Linked DNA regions of Homo sapiens: region 1 is linked to region 2. A link means that fine-mapping ties the variant in region 2 to the expression of a gene that starts in the linked region. Tissue or cell type: iPS cells. Region 2 holds a variant in brackets; the other region holds the start of a gene. All regions are shown on one strand. Distances are from middle to middle.

What was found. PIP is the estimated chance that this variant, and not a neighbour inherited with it, causes the effect.
Region 1: it holds the start of PCDHA10, and the variant in region 2 is the best candidate, but not a certain one, in a credible set for the expression of PCDHA10 in iPS cells (HipSci, PIP 0.87).

Annotation. Positions count from the first base shown.
Region 1 is chr5:140,854,568-140,857,259 of GRCh38, forward strand. It overlaps PCDHA10 (protocadherin alpha 10), which reads left to right and starts at 1,330. Exons shown (of 4, transcript NM_018901.4): 1 at 1,330-2,692. The coding sequence starts at 1,482. All of the region lies in intron 1 of PCDHA1 (protocadherin alpha 1), which reads left to right. All of the region lies in intron 1 of PCDHA2 (protocadherin alpha 2), which reads left to right. All of the region lies in intron 1 of PCDHA3 (protocadherin alpha 3), which reads left to right. It also overlaps PCDHA4, PCDHA5, PCDHA6, PCDHA7, PCDHA8 and PCDHA9, and 1 more gene.
Region 2 is chr5:140,939,912-140,942,603 of GRCh38, forward strand. All of the region lies in intron 1 of PCDHA1 (protocadherin alpha 1), which reads left to right. All of the region lies in intron 1 of PCDHA2 (protocadherin alpha 2), which reads left to right. The region is part of intron 1 of PCDHA3 (protocadherin alpha 3); the gene reads left to right. The region is part of intron 1 of PCDHA4 (protocadherin alpha 4); the gene reads left to right. It also overlaps PCDHA5, PCDHA6, PCDHA7, PCDHA8, PCDHA9 and PCDHA10, and 5 more genes. Among named protein-coding and RNA genes, the nearest start is that of PCDHAC1, 15 kb to the left of the region's middle. The variant CT/C (reference allele first, on the strand shown) is at 1,296.

The DNA of each region.
Region 1 (2,692 bases), 85 kb before region 2:
CATTCAGATTTTAATAAAAAAAGTTTAAAGTAATTGACACATTTAAAAATATTCTTTAGAAAAGTCAAAACATCATTAAATAAAATAAATTAACCCTTGCATAAGACCAATATGTCTGTTGTTAAGTTTTCCTTTCTTGGAAAGACAGAAAACTCAAGTTTTTTTCAGCAGCACAGATATATTACATTTTCATTCCTGAATATTTGATTTCAAGAACTTTGAGAGAGAAAAAAATATTTTTACTGCAAGTGGTGATGAAAAACTTCACTGACATTGATAAAATTACTAGATATATTTCAGAACTGTGTCTTTTGGGCATTTGAAAAGCGTAAATATAACAGGGTTGAAAGCATTTGCCTCTGAAAGCAGAAATAATAAATTTCTTAATTACTTTATTCAGAATTATAATTAAGATTCTTTTTGCCCGTGTAAGATATTATAAAATGAAACTTCTTGTATAAAGGATTTTTCTGTAATAGTACTTTTCTGTTTTCTTAAATACAGAAACCACCACTCTCAGCCTGTGCAGTAGCAATAATTAAGGCATTCTATAGGTAATAATTTTGCCTGATGAGCCAAATTTGGTATTGAGCCTCATGAAAACAAATGTGGCCAAATTGAGGCCTGAGAATAGTTTCCATTTATGAAGCACTCATTCTCCTTAAGGTACTATTGCAAGCACTTACTATATTATAATTCACTCAACCACCGTATTACTATTAGGCCAAAGTTATAAAATTGGAACATGAGGGAGGGAGAGGTTAAACGATTTTCCCAAGTCATGTGGCTAGTGAGTAGGATAATAGGAATCTAAATGGAGAAATGTCTGATGTTGAAGCTAATGATCTCTAAATTCTAGTGATGACTAGATCTTCGGAGTTATAAACACCTCACAGATAGTTGATGCTTGACATTAGTGTCTAAATAAACCTTATTAAATCTCAAAATAATGAGAAAGAGAAGTAAGTTAAGTGTCAGAACTTAAATGGAACTAAAGTTGTCATTTAATAAAATATTAGTATACTCAGTAGTATGCAAATATTAAGGGCATTTTGAAATTCGGCTATTGATAATCATGTGGTTAGGGAAGAAATCACTACTCTGAGAGTCTACATTTAAGAAAACATTGCACGTGGGATCAACATTTATTGTTATTAACTATAAAGAGACGTAATGTGAGGCTTTGAAAGTCCATAGACATAAAAATACGTAAAAAAAGAATTAACATATGAATGAAAGAAAAGTTGTGAACTCATGGAATCGTACTTACACCTAAAGCCACCGGATGTCGCTGTCGTCCACAAAATAGCTTTTTAGAACAAAGGCATCAGCCAGTTTCTCAAGGACTAGGAAGTAGCGTCATTCTGAGATCTCAGCCATTTCGATAAAAAATAGATATAAGAAATAGGACAGAAAATGTCAGATCGTATGTGCGTTCTAGACCGCTGATTCGTCGATTTGTAAAACAAGAGAAGGATAAGATGGTTTCCAGATGTAGCTGCCTGGGGGTCCAGTGTCTGCTGCTCTCGCTTCTTCTCCTCGCAGCCTGGGAGGTGGGGAGCGGCCAGCTCCACTACTCAGTCTACGAGGAGGCCAGACACGGCACCTTCGTGGGCCGCATCGCGCAGGACCTGGGGCTGGAGCTGGCGGAGCTGGTGCAGCGCCTGTTCCGGGTGGCGTCCAAAAGACACGGGGACCTTCTGGAGGTAAATCTGCAGAATGGCATTTTGTTTGTGAATTCTCGGATTGACCGCGAGGAGCTGTGCGGGCGGAGCGTGGAGTGCAGCATCCACCTGGAGGTGATCGTGGACAGGCCGCTGCAGGTTTTCCATGTGGACGTGGAAGTGAAGGACATTAACGACAACCCGCCCAGGTTCTCCGTAACAGAACAAAAGCTCTCAATACCTGAATCCAGACTGCTTGACTCTCGATTTCCACTAGAAGGCGCATCTGATGCGGATGTTGGAGAGAACGCATTGCTTACTTACAAACTCAGTCCAAATGAGTATTTTGTTCTTGATATTATAAACAAAAAAGACAAAGACAAATTCCCAGTGCTTGTTCTGCGGAAGCTGCTGGATCGTGAAGAAAATCCTCAGCTAAAGTTGTTGTTGACAGCAACTGATGGAGGCAAACCTGAATTTACCGGATCTGTTTCTCTGCTGATCCTGGTGTTAGATGCCAATGATAACGCCCCTATCTTTGACAGACCGGTTTATGAAGTTAAGATGTATGAAAATCAAGTGAACCAAACATTAGTAATACGGCTCAACGCTTCTGATTCGGATGAAGGAATAAACAAGGAAATGATGTATTCATTTAGCTCTTTGGTCCCACCCACGATAAGAAGGAAATTTTGGATAAACGAAAGGACGGGAGAAATAAAAGTAAATGATGCTATTGACTTTGAGGACAGTAACACTTATGAAATTCATGTAGATGTTACAGATAAGGGAAACCCACCTATGGTTGGTCACTGCACGGTCCTAGTGGAACTACTGGATGAAAATGATAATTCACCTGAGGTGATTGTCACTTCTCTGTCTCTCCCAGTGAAAGAAGATGCTCAAGTGGGCACCGTCATTGCCCTAATCAGCGTTTCTGACCATGATTCAGGAGCCAACGGACAGGTCACCTGCTCTCTGACGCCTCACGTTCCGTTCAAGCTGGTGTCCACCTACAAGAATTACTA
Region 2 (2,692 bases):
TCTTTTTGTTTGCTTATTTTATCAGTTACTGAGAAAATTATGTTAAAGTGTTCCACGATGAATAGTGAATTGTTTCTCCTTGGATTTTGTCAATTTTTTGTGTCATATGTTTTAAGGCTATTTTATTTTATTAGATTCTTAACCAAATATAAATATGTGATATCTTTCTGCTAAATTGAAACTTTTAGCGTTATGTATTATTTACCTCTATTTCTGCTAGTGATAAACTATTATAGTTTTTGTTTGCCTGAAATGTCATTCTTGATAGATATTTTTACATGGGTGTAAAATTCAAGATTGGCATTTATTTCATTTTGGTACATTAAAGTTACCTCCTCAATATCTTCTGGGTTCCACTGTTGTCTCATTGTGCTGCTTCATCAGTAATTTATTATCTTTCTTCCAATTTTACTAATTTTGTCTTCTTGTGTGTCCAACATGCTATTAAAAGTATTCCTTGAGTTGTTAATTTTGGTTATTGTGTTTTTCATTTTAAAAATTATAATTATTACTGATCAAGTCTGCCATGATATTTTTTATAGGTTTCTGTTCCCTGCAATTTTTTTTTTCAAGACAAGTCTTGCTCCGTCGCTCAGGCGTGATCATAGCTCACTGCAATCTTGAATTCCTGGGCTCAAGTGATTCTCCTACCTTGGCTCCCAAAGTGTTGGGATTTCAGGCATGAGCCGCTGCTCCTGGCTCCTGCAAATATTCTTAAGCTTGTCATTTATTTATTTAAATATATTAAATCTTCATCTGATAATTCCAGAGTCTGAAGTCTGCAAGTGTATACCTGCTGTGTGCTGTTTCAGCTGGACAGCTCCATATTTTTATGTGTGCCAACTTTTATTTGACTTTTGATGGTCCATATCCTGAAAATGATATTTGCCAGGATATCCTGAGATCTTGGATGGAAATACCTTTCTTCACGATAGATTTTTATACACCTTCCAGTGAGTGAATACTACTGCTAGTAAACCACTTTAAATCAAGTTCAAGACTTGAAGCTCCTTGGCTACTTAGACTACGTATTCTCAGATAAAAATATGCAGGATATCTGGTATCTAGTTACAAGTTTATAGGATTAAATTTTCCTTTCCTATTTTCCTTCTGGCCTTTTTGGTGCCAAGTCAAATTCCCCAGCAGTTTTCTGGGCTGGAGAGTAGGTGGGTTTAGTTTTCACATACTATTACTGGAAAGATTAGTCCTTTGAAGTTCCAGCTTAATGTAGTTTGGAGGCCCCATAAGACTCCCCATCTTGAACATCCTGCTTCTTTTTTTTTCTTTCTTCCTTT[CT/C]TTCTTCCTTTCTTTCTTTCTTTCTTTCTTTCTTTCTTTCTTTCTTTCTCTTTCTTTCTTTCTTTCCTTCCTTCCTTTCTCTTTCTTTCTTTCTTTCTTTTTCTTCTTTCTCTTTTTTTTTTTTTTTCAGATGGAGTCTTGCTCTGTTGCCTAGGCTGGAGTGTAGTGACAGGATTTTGGCTCACTGCAACCTCCGCCTCCCGGGTTCAAGCAATTCTCTGCCTCAGCCTCGGGAGTAGCTGGGATTACAGGCGCCCACCACCACGCCTGGCTAATTTTTTGTATTTTTAGTAGAGACGAGGTTTCACCATCTTGACCAGGCTGGTCTTGAACTCCTGACCTCGTGATCCATTCGCCTCAGCCTCCCAAAGTGCTGGGATTACAGCCATGAGCCATGGTGCCCAGCCCATCCTGCTTCTTAATTTCTGTCTTCCTACAACTTATGTCCAATTTTATGTCAAGTTCAATATTCTGTTTACCTCTTTGGGCTTAGCTTTCCTCCACAATTTGTCCTAGCAGTTCCCCATTATCTTATCAGATTTTCAGTGCTTTTAAGATAATTGTTTTAATGTTTTACCCAAGAATATTTAGTTGATTTCAGTAGGATGACTGCTGTAAATAATTTAGGCTGCCATTACCTGATATTCCCTATCATAGAGTTCTATCACCAGTGACTAGCATCTAAGTAACATTGAAATGCTTTTATGTATATCTTAAAATATTTGAATTACTTTTGTTTTGAAAACAATAGTATCTTTACTTTCCCTAAACCTTGATAAGGGATTCATATCTCTTATTATTAATTTTGGGAAAAAATAATTCATAAACCTGGTCTATTATGAAATGTTTGCTAATTGAGCCAAGAGAGCACATGCATTCATCTAAAACATTCATATAATCAAACTTTATTAAAGGTGATATTTGTGGCTTTACTTGACATAAAACAGCTTCCATATTTCTCTATTCCAGACATTTTATTTAAAATACATTTTTGAGCATAAGATATTTAAAATGTGTAGGCAAATAAGATATCCATATCATTAAAAGATATCTAAAGCTGGTAATGGTGGCTCATGCCTGTAATCCTAGCTACTTGGGAGGTCGAGGCACAAGAATCACTTGAACCAGAGGGAGGCGGAGGTTGCAGTTAACGGAGATTGCACCACTGCATTCCAGCCTGGGCGACAGATGAGACTCTGTTTAAAAAAAAAAAAGATATCTAACAATAAACAAGTAAACTATCAATTATAATACAATCAAATTCAAGCTACAACTGAAATAAATACATGGTATCTAGGAAACTCAGAGGGGAAGCAACTAACTCAGTATGGTGGGGGGTAGGGGGTTGAGGCAGAAAAATCTTCCCATATAGGATGTCACATATAATTATAGTGTT